Regions from separate parts of the Homo sapiens genome. Here region 2 is linked to region 1. Evidence: fine-mapped expression QTL. A gene starts in region 1. The other region holds a variant in brackets. All regions are shown on one strand. Distances are between the middles of the regions.

Region 1 (9,416 bases):
AAAAAAAAAAAAAAAAAAAAAAAGAAATGCGCTAGAGCAAGGGATTGGTAAACTAAGGCCCACAAGCCACTGCCTACTTTTGTTTGCCTCTAAGCTAAGAATGACTTTACATTTTTAAATAGTTGAAGAAAATCAAAAGAATATTTTGTGACACATCAAAATTATAAGAACTTCAAGTTTCAGTGACCGTAAGTTTTACTGGAACATAGCCACACCTATTTACATACTGTCTATCACCTGCTTTTGAATGACAAGGTGTGAGATAGGAAAAAATGCAAACTGCTTTCTCCTACAGTATTCTCATACTCACAATACTCTGAATTTTTTGTTTGTTTGTTTTAAGTAGAGATGGGGTCTCACTTTGTTGCCCAGGCTGGTCTTGAACTCCCGGGCTCAAGCAGTCCTCCCACCTTGGCCTCCCAAAGTGCTTGGATTACAGGCGTGAGGATTCACTTCTGACGTCAGGTATGTGTGGGGTTTCCTCTCCCAACAACCAATTCTCTGACACCAGCTGGGTGACCTATAATTTAACTCAATTCTCACACTATCTACCTGGATATAACATCAGACCGCAGAGGTCAAGGGCTCAGTCCCACAAGACTCTCCCCATTTCAGATACCAATTACAAGCAGTAGGTTCCCAGGTTACCCACAACTTGTCTAACTTGGCTACAATAAGAGGTTCCCACAACCCCCTTCTCAGGTTTGATCATTTGCTAGAGCAGCTCACGGAACTCAGGAAAGCACTTTACTTATTACCCATTCATTGTAAAAAGATGCCATTCAAAAACGGCCAGGTGGAAGAGACACATAGAGACATGTATGGGTTTTTATAGAGGCTTCACCATGTAGGTATGATTGATTAAATCACTGGCCATTAGTGAACAACTCAACCTTCAGTTTCTCTCCCCTTCCCCAGAAGTGGGAGTGGGTGGGAGGGACTGAAACTTCCAACTCTCTAATCACATGATGGGTTTTCCTAGGCAAACCCCCATCCTGAGGCTATCCAGGAGCCCCCAGCCATCAGTCATCTTAGCAGCATACAAAAAGACACTTAGCACTTAGGAGATTCCAAGGGTTTCAGGAGTTGTGCACAAAGAAATGGGAGCAGAGAACACACACGTATTTACTATTACATCACAGTACACAAAAGGGCAGAGTTGAATAGCTGCAATAGAGATCACGTGGCCCTCAAAGTCTAAAATATTTACTATATGGCCCTTTAAGGAAAAAGTTTGCAAACCTCTGCACTTGATTCAAAAATTTAAGGAACAACCAAATGTGTGGCTCTAAATGGGATACCATTTTGGACATGACCACCAAGGGACATTTTTGGAACAACAGGAAAAATTTGAGTATGATTTTGGTACTAGTTAAGATGAACATTTCCTGAAATGGAAAGGTGGAGACTGTGATTGAAAAAAGCAGAGCACAAAAGAGTAGCCTCAGTATGATCTTATTTTGTTTGGTATGCCTACAGAAGATCTGGAAAGATAGACATGGTGGTGTTATGTGTGATTTGGAGGAACTGTATTAATCTGCTTTTGCATTGCTATAAAGGAATACCTGAGACTGGGTGATTTATAAAGAAAAGAGGTGTATTTGGCTCATGGTTCTGCAGGTTGTACAAGATGCATGACACCAACATCTGCTTTTGGGAGGATCTCAGTAAGCTTCCAATCCTGGTGGAAAGGGAAGGGGAGCCAGTGTGAACTCATTACCACAGGGAGGCCATCAAGCCTTTCATGAGGGATCCACCCCCATGAGATGGATGTTGGGAAGTGACCCAAACACCTCCCACTGGACCACCTCAACATTGGAGAGCAAATTTTAACATGAGATTTGGAGGGGACAAATATCTAAACTATATCAGGAATGGAATATGATGTTTTTATTTTCACTGTTGTTTGTATTTTGCATTTTCTTCTTGCACAGATATTTCTCATTTTTTGGTGTACTATGTAGTCTAAGATCAATGCAGTAGAGATTCTGGCATATAATAGTTACAGGTAGAAGTATTTTTGAGAGTGGAAGAGTTTGTAAATAACACCCAGGGAATAGAATTCCACTTGTGGAGACAGAAAAGAGAGTATAAGCTGGGCTAAAGAAATTCTCATGCTGGCCAGTGGCTCCACGTGTAATCCCAGAACTTTGGGAGGCGGAGGTGGAAGGACTGCTTAAGGCCAGCAATTCAAGACCAGCCTGAGCAACATAGCAGGACACAGTGGTCTACAAAAAAAAATTAGCCTGGTATGGTGGTGAGCACCTCTAGTCTCAGCTACTTGGGAGGATGAGGCAGGAAGATCACTTGAGCCTAGGAGGTCAATGCTGGAGCCATGATCTAAGCCACTGTACTCCAGCCTAGGTGACAGAGCAAGACCCTGTCTCAAAACAAACAAAAACCCCCACTGTTGGGGTATAGTTCTAAGGGGCAGCCACTTGTTATGCAAGTAGAAAAGAGAGAAATGTAGAAAGAATTACAATGGTCAGCTGTCTTAAACCAAAATCTAAGGTAATTTTCATAAAATGGGTTCAATTTTTCATGCAATTGTCCCATGTGAAGCTTGTTCCAGGGATTTAATATGATGTTTTTCAAAATATTGTTCAGAACTCATTATTAGGCTAAGAAATTAGTCTAGCGATTCATGGGCAGAATTTTTTAAATGACACAAACTGAAAGATTAAATATCAGAGTAAGTCATATACCAAGGATAGAATGCATAATATGATCTCATTTCTGTTTCAAAAGGAAAAAAAAAAACCTTGATATGTTGTATTTTTATGAATCTGTATAACAATCTATTAAAAAATTAGGGAAGGCTATACTTCAAACTTTTAATATGGTTACTTTAGGAGAGTGGGGCTAAAGGAAACCATACAGAAAAAAATTTATTTCAATTATTTATTCCAATAAAGTCACCTTCTTTAAGAAGTCTTTTCTTGCTTATTTTATCTGATGCTAATCCCTTTACTAATTTTCTTATCACCTTAGCACTAAAGCCACTCATTCATACTTTCCCAAACAGTCATTGTACTACGCCCCTAGGAAAAAAATATAAATACCATACCAGTATCTGCCTTAAGAGTTTGATCTAGTGGGAAAGGCATACTCATATTTAATTATAAATAATGTGGTATAAGTTTTAAGGAGTGAGTAGGCAGACAGGCAACAGGGTAGTTGGTAGGCAGAGGAATATTTTGGCCCCAAACTGCCACTCTAAAACCTTGTCAGAGGTAACAAACAGCATGCACAAGTGTTTATAGAGCAGCCCAGGGATGGGCTAGAAAAGTGGGCAGGACTGGACCACAGAAGGGCTTTGTATGGTGTGTAAGCATTTAGGCTATCCTGAGGAGCGTAAATGAAAGATTTGAAGCAAAAGAAACATTTAGCTGATTTGATTTTTAGATACACCAAAATGGAGTCTACATGGAGGATGGATTTAAGACATTAACTTGAGGCAGGAATTTGGTTGTATAACATAAACACACTTTTAAAAAGTTATGTGGCCTTTCTTTACGGAGTACTTCATGGCTCTTTATTCCATCTCCCTCATCAATTATATCAAAGGTTAGGATGGAAAGGCTAAGACACGGCAATGTCTTATTTGACAACCCCTCCCCAAACCCCTACTCCAGGCTTTCCCACAGCAATTTCAAAACCTTTTTCCTGGCACTTAACATATTCTCCCCTGCATTTGCTTTTGACTGTACAGTACATAGGTCTTAGGTCTCCAGTCTGAAAACTGCACCACTAGATTTTACAGTTCCACAGGACTTAGCACAACGTCTTTGAAAAAAAAAAATACTGCTTAAATAACTCTCAGATCTAAATGTATAATCCTAATCTCTTGATTGCCAGACCACATTCCCAATTGCCCAGATATCTCTACCTGGATGTCCTATAATTATCTCAAACTTAACCTAATCCAAATGGACCTGGGTACCTCTCTTCACCGCCAAACTAGTCATGCTTCCATTTCATATTTAAGTACTTTTCCAAACCCTGAGTCATCTTTGTTCACTCTCTACTACCGGCCATGAACACTCAGCTGCTAAATGCTGCACACATCTCTTCCATTTCTCTCTCTTTTCCATTACCCTAGTTTAAGCTCTTGAAATGCTTCCCTACCTCTCCCTATTTCCCACAAAACCTACATAATAGCTATCAGGATTACCTTGCTAAAGCAGAGGTGTGATCACTGTCATTTCCCACCTTCAGGTAGCTGGAAACCCCACAAAACGAGGATCATGCCCATTTAAATCCCGCAGCATTCTCCCTCTCGTTCTACTGATGCCGACTGGATCATTGTACTTGCCAAGTACAGTTTGTTTTTCTCCCCATTACTTGTGTTTTCTAGTTTCTCCACCAGATGGTGATGACAGTACAACTGGGAGCTTTGTGCCCTGTGTTCCTAGGCCAGTGCCAGGCCCACTTGAGGCGCTCACTAACTATGATATGAACGAATGAATGCTTGAGTGAATTGGTCCCCAGAAGCGGTCAGCCTCTCCGCCAAGGCAGAGGGGAAGGGCCGGGAGGTGCACGTGGGATGAATGGAAACATAGTGATTGGCCTTTTTGGAGTTTTCTTCTTAAAAAACTGAATACATTACAGATGTTGAAAACAGCACAAAAATCATAACTGTACGGCTTGTTAATTTTTACAAATAAATACACCCTCGTGAATCCAGAACCTAGATCAAGAACCAGAGCATTACCAGCACCCAGAAACCTCCCCGCGCCCTCCTCCACTGAGCGGCCCTTTCAACCCTTACAATGCCGGAGGGCGCAATTCCTGGGTCCTGTGACCTTGGTGACCGACGCCCGGGACAAGTCAGAAAGACCCAAGGGCGTGGAAAACGCTCCTCTTACCGATAAACTTGAAGCGACTCATGACTGCGCATGGAGGACCTCCCCAGCGGAAGCGGAAGTGGCCGCCGGCAACTCCGCCCTTCCGGCTGGCCCCGCTCAGTCACCCGCAGCAGGCGTGCAGTTTCCCGGCTCTCCGCGCGGCCGGGGAAGGTCAGCGCCGTAATGGCGTTCTTGGCGTCGGGACCCTACCTGACCCATCAGCAAAAGGTGTTGCGGCTTTATAAGCGGGCGCTACGCCACCTCGAGTCGTGGTGCGTCCAGAGGTAAGGGATGGGGACCCAGGACTCGGGGAGGTGACCCTCGGGGCCCCATGGAGGTGGAGAGGCCCCTGGGTACCTGGAGGTTCAAGGACTTCGGGAACGGAATTGGAAGGTGGCCTCTCGCTTCACAGAATCCTATGGTAGACCCGGGTTCAAATCCAGGCTTCGCCACTTATGGCCGGGAGACCTTGTAGAGTTGCTTGTCGGGTCTGGGCGTCAGCTTTTTGTTTAGTAAAACGGACGCACGACCAGCGCAGAGGGTCGCAGGAAAATTAAGTGAAATAAAGGAAAGTGCCTAAAATTGTAATTGTCATGGGTCCAGCGCTCGCTCAATCGTTTTCTTCACGATCTTCTCCTTTCCAATATTAACAGCAATAAACTATGCATTATTTTCTTCAGTCTGCAAAACTCTAGGAGTTAGGAATTATCTTAAGCTTATTTTACAGATAAGAAGATGAGCACAGCTGGTAACTTGCGCAAGGTGATAGAGTTTCTAAGTGTCTGAGCCAGGGTTAAAATTTAGGTCTTTCTCCAAAGCATCATCATTCTCCCACCCCTCCCATTAGCTTTTCTCTTTTTAGCTTCATCTAGTCCTTTTCATTACCTTTACATCTTTTTCACCTCTTACATAATTCTCTTTCGACCTCTATCCGTCTGAGACTAGTCTGAGAACATAGTGTTAAAATGTGTAGATTTTAATCACCTAAATTCATTGCAGGGTGGGCTAACAACCCAAGATGTGTGAGTGCCTCGCCTCCACTCCAGTCTTACGACTCTCCAAACGTAGTTTTATAAGAAGGCCTTCTGGGAAAAAAACTCTATGGAAAATGGAGTAGGCCTGGAAGAATTACAGAGGGTACCCTCGAAGCCCAGATTGCATATATGTGACTATTAGAAAATCACTGACATACTTCTCTTGATTTGGCAGGAAGATGGCCAAGTACAATGTGATGGGATTGTTAGTTTCTTCCTTGAGTTTTCCTTATTTATTTATTGATTTGACAGAATTTGCAATTCAGATTCTATGCTCTATGCTAAATATATAAATGTTAGTAAATCCATTTTTGAGCAGCAGCAGCTCACGGATTAGTGGGGAAAATGGACATGTAAACAAATCGATGATGAAGGAAGTTGAGCCATCAGGGATTCAGGTATCCCAACACAAATGGTAAATGTTTGAGGTGATGAATATCCAAATTACCCTGATTTGATCATTATACATTATATGGATGTATTAAAATATCACATGTACCCCATAAATAGGTACAATAATTATGTGTCAAAAAAAGTTAAACATGAAAAAAAGAATTCAAGCAATACTGAACTATAGCTGGGAATACTAAAGTCCATAGTTCTAGAGGAAAATGATATAAACTAGCTACTATGACAGTTATGGCTCAGCATTTTTTAGATCTGACATTCTTTCTCAATCCTTGCCTTAATTTCTTCCTCCATTTGCCCTCATTGTGCTGTTCTCTGTGGTTCCATCCTAGGCATACTGTGTTGTTGTATGTACTCGGGCAGCCTCATTTAGTGCTGTCACCACCTGCGCTCATTTGTCTCTAGAGCTGTAGTTCGAATTGCTTGTTAGATCACGACTGTTGGCTGGGCATGATGGCTCACGCCTATAATCCCAGTACTTTGGGAGGCTGAGGTGAGTGGATCACCTGAGGCCAGGAGTTCAACAGCCTGGCCTACATGTGAAACCGCGTCTCTACTAAAAATACAAAAATTAGCCAGGCGTGGTGGTGGGTGCCTGTAATCCCAGCTACTCATGAGGCTGAGGCAGAAGAACCGCTTGAACCTGGGAGGCAGAGGCTGCAGTGAGCCGAGATAGCCCCATTGCACTCCAGCCTGGGCGACAAGAGTGAAACTTTGTCTCAAAAAATAATAATAAAAAAAAAATTGAAAAGATCACCAACCGTTCTCTCAATCTCCATTTATCTAAATTCTTTGAAATCAAACTTGTTTTCCTGTCACTCCCCATTCTGACTCTTTTCCCAAATTCCCTGCCTCCGCTAATGGTATTATTAGTAATTCAGTTACTGAGCTTTAAGTCTCAGAATTGTTCTCAAGTATTTGCTCCTTATTCCTTTGCCAATAACACACATACTCATACACCATGTATAATTAGACACTGGTTTTTATAAATTCTCTTTCCAGTATGATATTAGTAACTGACATTATTTAACACTTGGGATGTACCAGGCACTTTTTAAAGTGTGTTTATCTTATTGACTGTTTATGACAACCTTAAGATATACACACTGTTATTGCCACTGTTTTACAGAGGAGGAACCCGTGGCCTAGAAGACTTTTTTTGTTTGTTTTTTTGTTAGACGGAGTTTCGCTTATGTTGCCCAGGCTGGAGTGCAGTGGCGCGATCTTGGCTCACCGCAAGTTCCGTCTCCCGGGTTCAAGCAATTCTCCTGCCTCAGTCTCCCGAGTAGCTGGGATTACAGGCATGCGCCACCACGCCTGGCTAATTTTTGTATTTTTAGTAGAGACGGGGTTTTGCCATGTTGGCCAGGCTGGTCTTGAACTCCTGACCTCAGGTGACCTCCACCTCAGCCTCCCAAAGTGCTGGGATTACAGGCGTGAGCCACCGTGCCTGGCCTTTTTGTTGTTGTTGTTGTTGTTTTTTTTTGAGATGAAGTCTCGCTCTTGTCCCCCAGGCTGGAGTGCAAATGGCACAATCTCGACTCACTGCAACCTCTGCCTCCCGGGTTCAAGCTATTCTCCTGCCTTGGCCCCCAGAGTAGCTGGGATTACAGGTGCCTGCCACCACGCCCGGCTAGTTTTTGTATTTTTAGCTGAGACGGGATTTCACCATGTTGGCCAGGCTGGTGTAGAACTCCTCACCTCAGATGATCCCCCTGCCTTGGCCTCCCAAAGTGCTGGGATTACAGGCGTGAGCCACCATGCCCGGCCTCATTTTTGTATTTTTAGTAGAGACGGGGTTTCTCCATGTTGATCAGGCTTGTCTTGAACTCCAGACCTCAGGTGATCCACACGCCTTGGCCTCCCAACGTGCTGGGATTACAGGTGTGAGCCACCGCACCTGACCAGAAGACAGTAACTTACCCCAAGTTACACAGCTAGTAGTGGCAGAGCTAAGATTCAGGCCCATACAGTCTGACTGGAGAGCCTATTCTCATAACTTGGAAGTCTCAATGTCTCCCCTGTCTCCTGTCACCATCACAGCTCCGTACTTTCAGGCCCTCGTCAGCTGTGTCCTAGATTATTGTCAAAACCTCCTAACTGATCTTTGCCCAGTTTCTTTAGAACTTGACTTTAACTTGCCTAAGTTTATGCAGCTAGTGTCAGAGTCAGGATACAAACCTAGCTCTGTATGAGCTAAGCAATACTGTTTCTGCCAAGTAACACCTTTCTTATTCATCTTTGTATCTCCAGAATTTAGCATAGTGACTAGCACAAGATAGAAGGAAATGGAAGTTGTCATTCAATGAATGTTGAATGATCCTGCAGAGGTTATAGCTTTTCTCTTGCGAATGCTCTTTTCTTTTTTTTTTTTTTTTTTTTTGTTTAAATCCTCATTCCATTGTTGGATGTAAGAGGAGAAAAATGGTTAGGGTATATATTTAATACAGTATTTTTTTGCTGCTGCTGTTTGGTGGGCTGTAGAGGAAGCAGCCATGATGATACGGCTGCTCCATTGGGAGGGTTGGGGTAGGTCCACTGCCCATCCAGAAGGTATCAGAAGTGCAGCCTCCTGTCAGACAGCAACACTGACCACGTGAGTAGGTAACATTTCTAATCTTCAAAATCATTTTGGTTTAAGAGACAAATACCGATACTTTGCTTGTTTGATGAGAGCCCGGTTTGAAGAACATAAGAATGAAAAGGATATGGCGAAGGCCACCCAGCTGCTGAAGGAGGCCGAGGAAGAATTCTGGTACCGTCAGCATCCACAGCCATACATCTTCCCTGACTCTCCTGGGGGCACCTCCTATGAGAGATACGATTGCTACAAGGTAGGTGAGAATTATGATGACTGCCTTCTGAGAAATAGACTTTGTTTCTTCAGTCCCACACCTCAGCCTCAGAAATCACTTGCCCTTCAAGGGGTAGCTAGGAGACTTATTTCCTGACAGTTGTCAGATGCAGGCCTACCTCATTTTATTGCATTTTGTTTTATTGTGCTTGGCAGATATTGTATTTTCACAGATTGAAAGTTTGTGGCAACCCCGTGCTGAGCAAGTCTGTGGGCACCATTTTTCCAACAGCATGTGCTCACTCCCTGTCTCTGTTTCTCAGTTTGGCAATT
Region 2 (8,703 bases), 21 kb after region 1:
ATTACAGGCGTAAGCCACTGCCCTGGCCTGAAGCTATTCTTATTACAGCACATGTCTCCATTCAAATTGGAGACTGCTGTATATGATGCTGCAAAACGCAAAAAGCTGTGAAAGTCCAGATCCCTTTATTTATTATTATTTTTTTTTGAGACAGAGTCTTGCTCTGTCACCCGGGCTGGAGTGCAGTGGCGCGATCTCAGCTCACTGCAAGCTCTGCCTCCTGGGTTCACGCCATTCTCCTGCCTCAGCCTCCTGAGTAGCTGGGACTACAGGCGCCTGCCACCACGCCCGGCTAATTTTTTTGTATTTTTAGTAGAGATGGGGTTTCACCATGTTAGCCAGGATAGTCTCGATCTCCTGACCTCGTGATCCACCTGCCTTGGCCTCCCAAAGTGCTGGGATTACAGGCGTGAGCCACTGCGCCCGACCCCAGATCCCTTTCTTATATGGCAGCTACCTGACAACTACAGATGAGCTCCCCAAAGCATTCCCAGATGACGAAAACAATCCTGACACCTGTTAGTTAGCGAGTGGTGGGTTGTGGTTAAAATGGACCAGCAGTTTTCTATCTCCTCACCTGGTGCTGCTCAGAAAGCCTAAGTGCACACCCCAGGCTGCCTCGTACCTTGGGAAGGGATGGTGTCCTCAGAGCAGCAGGGGGTGGTTGTCTGGGTGCTGTAGCCGCTGGAGCACTGAAGCGAGTCCCGGCTGCTCCTCTGGGTGTCCAGCTGCAGGCCCCGAGACAGGGCCAGGGCCAGCTCCTCACAAGCCTCCATCTCCTCACCAGGCTGCAGGTTGGAGGAGAGAAATACACAGGTTGCTTTAGGGGGGGGGCTCAACAGCACTCCTGTTCTGCCCCCGTGAGCACTACATGTCTGTGGGGCCAGGGGGCTATTGACTTGCTTGGGTCCCACTCTGACCCTAGAAAGTTCTGCCTCTCTCATTCCCACACAAGGTTTTTTTCCCAGGGACTTTGCTGTAGAGCAGGAAGTCAGGGAATGGAGCCCAGGTCCCTCCAGCTGCAAGGCTGCCTTGGCCCCCCAGTTGCTGGCCAGAATGTGATCCCCAGCCAGGCTGAGGTGGCCCCAACCAGCTACTGAGAACAAGAGCATCACCCTGGTGGCAGCCGATACAGTCATGCTCCGTGGTCTCTGAGCCTCCTCAGCTGCTGCAGGTGGGCCGCTGGCGGTAGTGGGTCCTCCCCCGTTGGGGTCCGGTTCTCGCTTCTCTTTGCGGCGCTGCAGGGTGTTCACCAGAGGCTGGTCATAGGGCCCAGGCTTAGCCCAGTCCTATGCAAAACAAGTGCGGTCAGGAGCCAGGGCCTCTGCCTCCACTGGAGGGCTGCGGGGACCCCATAGACAGCTCCCCAGAGAAGGCAGCTGGTCCCCTTAAGGGGAACCTCCGGCTGGGACAAGCCACAGGCCCTCTGCATGCCCTCTCCAGGCTCTAAAGGGCAAGGAATGGAAACCCTTTGGGAGCCCCCTGTGTACCTCCCTTTTCCTCGTCTCTGCCCAAAGATTAAAAACCCTCACCCACCAGGTGGCAGCAGGAGACCCGGCAGCCACCTAACAGGTGACCGGTGTAAGCTAAGGGGACCCACCAGTGGGCAGTACATCGTGCTTCTCCTGTCTGAAGGGACCAGCGCTCCTTAACAACCCAGATGGCTTCCCGTTAGGGGAATGGCCACCAGCGAGCACTAAAGCAACATCAGCCCTTCTCCCTCCATTCCCAGGAAACCAGCCTCAAAGGGCATGGCAGGCTCCCTGCCCTCTCAAGCCCTCAGAAGGAAAGGAAGGCGCCCAGGGGCAGTAGAAAGATTCCGAGAAGCCTTGAGAGGCCCACACCGCCTGTGAGGGCTAAAGTCAAAACCTGCTTAAAACGCTGGCAGCCAAGGGGCCTACTTTTCAAATTAGGGTCCTCCTCTCAAAAGAGAGCAGATTATCCTCCTGGAGGAGCATTGATCGGACTTGCTAGGGGATCATTTTCAAAGTTCGTCTTTATATTAAAGCAAACATGTTTGAACACTCAAGACTAAAACTAAAGTCTGCGTGTACTGTTAAGTTCAACATGATCACCCCAAACCTGCTTTGGGTTATGGTTCTGTTACCACAGCCCAGCAGGGAGCTCATTAGGGAAAATGGGAAACATGGCCAGAAGGAAAGTCCCCCCTAAACCCCCTAGAAGCTCTGATCATGCTGACACCCTCAGGTGGCCCCCGGGAGGGACCAACCCATAGATTTCAACTTGATGCAAAACTGGGCCTTTGGACTTGGAATTGCCGCTGCCTGCGGTGCACACTGCACTGCCGTCCATCAGGGATTGACCAAAGTCCCCTGAAGGAAGACCCTCAGCCCCAGCTACCTGTGGAAATTGCTGTCTTAGAGCTGCCGGCTGCTTTCTGCTTCTCCCCCAATGGGAGTTTCCTGAGGGAGAGGCATTATGGGGAAGAAGGCAGAGTGTGAAAGGAAGGGGATGAGGGGATAGTCGGGGTGAGGGGGTTGGAACAGAAGAGGGGTGAGCACAGAGGCAATGACGGGGAGAGGAGGAGGGGGAGAGACACAAACCTTCCAGCTAGGGATCTGAGATGACGGGAACATGCCGGGCCCAATGGTGTAATAATGAGCGTAGTCTGGAAGGTGGACAGAGGTGACCCGAGGGAGCAGGCGGGAGGCAGGCAGGCAATGAGGGAAAAGGCCTGCACCCGTGGGCCCCACGTGGGACTCACTTGATAAACTATAGTGAGAAAACCCGTTAGACAACTGGAAACAAACAAAAAAAGGGGGGGGGAAGGAAAAAAAATTAATATAACAGGATGAGTGCGGAGATACAAAATGGCATTGACATTCAAGGGAGGGGAAACCTGAATATTTATAAATAAAACAAACATTGGGGCTCTGCTGCTCACGGATGATCTGTGATGCAAGAGAAAAGAGCCGGGGTGCAAAGAATGCACATGAGTTTGACAGCAAATAAGCATCTATGTTTGACCTACGTTTTAGAAGTTTGGAAATTGATCAGTGCCCTCAATTTGTGGCCTTGTCAATGGTTTTTGATAATGTAACTAATGAAGCCTCATTTAATGGTGATAGTGATTTGCTCATTTCATTATGCAAATTTAAAAATTCCAAAGCATCTTCAAATGAATCTGTTCATTCTAGGTTTCCAAAATCATCGCATTGCTCAGGAGCACATTCTCAATCAAGGGCAGGGGGGTGGGGGTGCAAACTAAAAAGCGGAAAAGCACACAGCCTCTGACACAGTGACATGGCTCATCCAACGGTCTGGTGGGTGGCTCGGGAAGGGAGGGAGGAGGATGGACAGGCACGCAACACCTGGTCTGGGAGAAAGCCTTCACACCTCCAAATTCCCCATACCCCTTCCTCTCCCTTGAGACAACCATGTGGTCATTGTCCAGCAGCCAGGCACTCATTCTAGAAAATGCCCTCAGCCTTGTCCCACCCTCTGTCCCCAAGAGGAGCCCCACTCTTGGTGTCGATTCTGAGCTTCCAGGTTGCCGCGGCTGTGAGGGCTGTCTGAGCAGCAGGCAGGGGGACCAGGGAGAGTGGGGCCGCTGTGGCTGCCACCCGGGCGGTCACCTTCTCTGTGGACACCCAGGCACCCATGGTGGAGCCCGAGCTGACAGAGGTGGGGGAGCTGCACTCGCTCACTGACTGGCAGGTTTCCGAGGCTTCGGAGGAGGCCGAGCTGGACGAGTTCTGCAGCAGGGGAGGGGCCACACGAGGGGACCAACAGAAACCGAGCCACACACCACCAAAATATAATAAATAAAAAAAGGAATGGGGATGGGAGTGGGGAAGGGCACACACAGAGAGAAAGAGACAGACATATACACAGAAGAGGGGAGGATGAGAGAAGCAGAGGGTTAGGGTTACTTTTCCCCCAAAGTTGCATCCATGCAGAGGCTTTCGAGCCCTTGAAAAGAAGCGTGCGACCCGGCCAGCCCTAGGTCACTAGACTGTGGGTCCCCAAGGACACGGATTTGTGTGTCTTTTGCTGGGACCCAGAAGCATGCCTGGCACCGAAATATCTGGTCATGGCATTGGGACTTCGTGCTCTCTTGGGTGTTTCTTCACGTGCCACAGGCCCAGGTCCCCAGGGAGGCCC[C/T]GCCTGTCACCTCTCTTATGTGCATAGGTGTTATTTATTGCATGAGGGCGGACCCCAGCTCGGGCTTTTGCTACATGTCTGCCTGGAATGGCTCGACTTCCTGGAGTCTCCTTTCATCAAATGCAGCCTGTGGATCCATGAGGGGTGGTTTCCAGCTATGAAGCCTCATCAAGACAGACTTTTAGGTTTCTCATCCTGGAGTGTGATTTTGGGGTTTGGGGCAGTGAAGCCCTCTGGTCAGCACAATGTTTCTGGTGGCCATTGTGGGGTGGAATGAACCATCTCTGGAGAGGTCTCATTTGGGAAACCATCGCTTTACACTGATCTGATGGAACCCCAGGTCCCTGCTGGAGTCCTAGTCAGCCACGGCATGCGCTCCCAGTCTGGCTTCCTGATGTTCAGCTGGGGCAGGGACTGTTCCTATGATCTCACCTACACCCAAGTTTCTTCTAGTTCTGGACCTGGCACATGGCTGGTGCTCAAAACATAATGAATGAGTGACAATGATCATCTCTGTCACGTAAGTTGGGTCTCCTGGGCACTGCTTTGCATCCATCCAGGTACTTGCTTTAAATTTTTTCACTGTTAACTGCAATCTCTGGCTTAACCTCAGTTTGTTTAAATAAGCTGACTCCTCTCTATTGTAATTTATCTGAAAGTGTTCCTGTATTCACCATCAAGGAGGCCAGAATCATATTTCTGTCCCTTTCACCTACAAAAGAAAGGTCCCTACAAAGGAACAGAGATTTCGCTTTCCTGTCCTGTAAGGGCAAGGAGACAATCAGACACTCAACAATGTGTGGGGCTCAGTGGACCCAAAGCAAGGAGAGACTCCACGGTGGACGGACATCCCAGCTGCACTCTGAGCTCAGTGTCTGGTTAGCAGCCCAGGATTTGAAGATGGAAGGTTTGGATTTAAGTCACATTTGTGCCAATTCCCAGTCGAGAAACTGAACTTAAAAAATTTGAGGTTTAGAGGGCTTTATCAACAAAAAACAGCCAGATGTGGTGGCTCATGCCTGTAATCCTGGCACTTTGGGAGGCCAAGGCAGGAAGACTGCTTGAGGCTAGGAATTGGAGAACAGCCTGGGCAAGATAGCAAGACCTCATCTCTACAAAAAATAAAAAATGTAAAAGAGGAAAGGAGTGAGGGTTGAAAAATTGCCTATCAGAGACAATGCTCACTATTTGGGTAATGGAAATAGAAGCCCAATCCTCACCAGTATGCAAGGCACATGTATTCTCAAATCTAAAATAAAATTAGCCAAGCATGGTGGCACATGCCTATAGTCCCAGCTACTTGGTAGGCTGAGGTAGGAGAATTGCCTGAATCCAGGAGTTCAAGGTTACAGTGACCTATGATCCCGCCACTGCACTTCATCCTGGGCAACAGAGTGAGACCCTGTCTCAAAAAAAACGAACAAAAATAAAACAACAAAACAGTAACCCACCGCAGGACTGCAGGTTCAGATTTCTTTGGAATTATGCTCATTTTTTATAAAGAACCTCTTGACTCAGATGGAATAAATGGCTCTAGGGTGAGACCCTCATTGAAGACATGGCCCCACTCCTGGGCACAGATGGGTGAGGGCACAATTTGAAGAGTGGAGGGAGGTAAACCAGAGAATTCTGAACAAATTCCATCACTCGGCTTTCATCTCAGACCTGTGTTACTCAGTAGAGAAATGAAGGGCTCCTGCGCCTCCTAGATGTATGCCCCCTTTCTCCCTAATAAAGGGGAGGTTACTGCCTTCAGGAGATTGTACCCTCTGGCTAATGTGATCTGTACAATGACCTTCAATTTCCCCTTTACCTTATAATAATAAGCAGTCGTAATGCCTTTCTTAAAAAATAAGAATTCTCTATTAAGTTTTGTAGCATCCCTGAGCTCATTAAAACTACCCTAGTGGCCGGGCGCGGTGGCTCATGCCTGTAATTCCAGAATTTTGGGAGACCGAGGTGGGCGGATCACCTGAGGTCAGCCTGACCAGCCTGGCAAAAGCCCACCTCTACTAAAAATACAAAAGTTAGCTGGGAATGGTGGCGCGTGCCTGTAATCCCAGCTACTTGGGAGGCTGAGGCAGGAGAATCGCTTGAACCCAGGAGGTGGAGGTTACAGTGAGCCAACATTGCACCACTGCACTCCAGCCTGGGGTGACAAAGCGAGACTGTCTTAAAAACATAACATGACAAAACAAAAAGCTACCCTAGAGTTGCTAGCCACGCATGTCTTGGGCACAGGTTTTCAGATTTAAGTAAACCCAATATGCCCTCTTCTGCTTCCCTCCATGCCATGGGAAACACTCTGTTCTACCCCATCCACACTCACAGTCTTGGAAGGGAAGGCTGCAGCACGTGGCTTCTCCTTTTCAGAAAGGGGCGTCAGTGCACACTACTATGTTAATTTGTCAATTAAACACACACACACAATTATGCTGCACACTAGAACAGCCCGGAGGAACTGCACATTCCAGCCCTCCTCCCGACCCTTTGCCCTCTCTGCTTGTGAGCAGCACATATGGTTTAGTGAAGCACACAGCGGGGAAGAGGAGCTCCTTACAGACCAAGCCAAGCACCCCAGGTGGGACACGCACTCTCAAGCACTCTCAAACTATAGCCGTGGCTCTTGGCTCTGAGTGCGTTTAAAATTGAGTGTGTATCCAAGGAAGGCAGACAGAGGCCACAGTCCCCAGGATGGCTGAAAAATGCTAATGGGAGCGCTGAGCTGTGAGGAGAGGAACGCAGAGCTCTGACATGGGTTTCCCAGCAGGTGGGGCTGTGGGGCACCCAGCATTCTGTATGTAGAGCTACTTGCCAAGTTCAAGGCCGACACCAACCCAATGACACTAAGGGAGAGAGGACAGAGAGAGGATCACATACATTGATGATGCACATGAAGAGTGTTCAGATGCCCTGGCCAGCTCCTGCGTTCTGCTCCAGCTGGAACCACTGGGCTGGGCTGGGCCTAGCACCATTAAACCCAGCTGTAGTTGAAGAGATTCTGCCACACCTTCCCTTCCAGAATCTAAGTGCCAACAGAATTATGTGCAGAAGCTCTGATGATTCATTCTCATTCTCAACACAGATTGATAAAAGGAACCTGAGAGCGCCAAGGGATGGTATCGGAAGCGCTATTCAACCATAGAATCTCAGCCATTCAGGGAGAACCTGAGATGTGGGGGAGGAGGTGTCCCCATTGTGCAATGCCCTTTAATTATAGCATTTAATTATGCCAAGCTGGGCACTTACAGGGACGCCTGAGAGTGGTCAAACCTCTTTCAATCCATCTACTTACGTGAGAGCTCCCCAAATCGATGTGGTAATGCAACCATTACCACCATGGAGACAGGCTTCAAACCCACTTATAGCACCTCTCCCTTTAGGGGAACAATACATCTAAAGATGAGAAATTAAACCAGAGGTTTCTCAAGTCAGTGGGCAGGGGATTGTCTAAGCCAAGGTGCTTCTTTGGTTCTGGCCACTGACAGTGGTCAGGACACCAGGTGTGACAGCTGCTCCTGGAGCCAAGGGCACCCTTACCTGGTTGGGGGCCTCTGGCGGCATGGGGGATGGTGACTTGGACTGGAAGGCATCCTGGGATATGAATCCTGAGTCATGGGAGGACACGCTGGACAGCCTCACAGGAGCCTGCTGGGCCAGGTTGGAGCTGCGGTAGCGGTAATGTGAGCTGGGGGAATGCGAGTGGGAGCCGCTGGACCGGGAGTCACTGCTGTTGACACTGTTCAGGCTGCTGTGGAGGACAAGCAGGGGTGAGGGGTGGGCACGGAAGGTAAAGAAAGGGGAGCAGTGGTAAGAGGAAGGAGGAAGGAGGGGAACAGATGAGGCAGAAGAGAGAGAAGCACAACATAATGCAATTAGCTCTCTGCCCTGGAGATGCAGTGCAAACCACAAAACACGTTTTCAAAACACCAAATCATGAAGGTAGTCAACAAAATGCTTTTCCAGGTGACCCAGGGGGAAATACAGCTGCCAGGACTCAGGTCTCCGATGGTAACCATGTGGCATTCTTACGAGGGAGGTCTGGGGTTCTAAAACGTCAAGTGCGCCCAACTCTGCTGCTTCGCCTACCACCAAAACGAGGGGAGCTGATGTCAGTAGCAAGAAAAGGGACAGGGTTAATCTGCCTGCAGGAACCATGAGCCTGCAGCAAAAGTCCACTGGGGCTTCAGCATGACTGGAATGTTCTTGGATGGACCATCTGGGTCCACATGACCAAGGCCAACCCAGCTAAGCACTGCCGATGGATTTGCTGAGGTGATTTCATCCTAGCTGAGTCTGGTCAAGCCCGCTGTCAAGAACATCAGCAAATCAACTCACTATGTTGGTGTGCATATGTTTTACCTTTTAACAAAGTGATGCTTTAATTAATGTTTTTACTCTGACCCCAGCTGTTTCTGTGTTAAAATATCTGTGGGTCTGGCACAATAGCACACTTGGCAAGAGGCAGGCAGCTTTCAGCGACTAAGGGCAATCAATGCTCAGCTGTTTGCTCTTGAAATGGCACAGTAAACAGGATGTCAAATAATGACACACCCGCTCTGGATTTCTGTCTGCCTT

Evidence for each region.
Region 2: its variant is fine-mapped to the expression of NDUFB9 in whole blood (TOPMed, PIP above 0.99).

Annotation. Positions count from the first base shown.
Region 1 is chr8:124,534,157-124,543,572 of GRCh38, forward strand. NDUFB9 (NADH:ubiquinone oxidoreductase subunit B9) reads left to right here and starts at 4,967. Exons shown (of 4, transcript NM_005005.3): 1 at 4,967-5,131; 2 at 8,931-9,123. The coding sequence starts at 5,031. TATDN1 (TatD DNase domain containing 1) reads right to left here and starts at 4,929. Exons shown (of 12, transcript NM_032026.4): 1 at 4,869-4,929. The coding sequence starts at 4,890. RefSeq lists an enhancer at 4,790-4,859.
Region 2 is chr8:124,555,117-124,563,819 of GRCh38, forward strand. It overlaps MTSS1 (MTSS I-BAR domain containing 1), which reads right to left. Exons shown (of 14, transcript NM_014751.6): 10 at 7,666-7,876; 11 at 2,565-2,759; 12 at 1,116-1,289; 13 at 626-788. Among named protein-coding and RNA genes, the nearest start is that of NDUFB9, 20 kb to the left of the region's middle. RefSeq lists a silencer at 6,860-6,949. The variant C/T (reference allele first, on the strand shown) is at 4,126.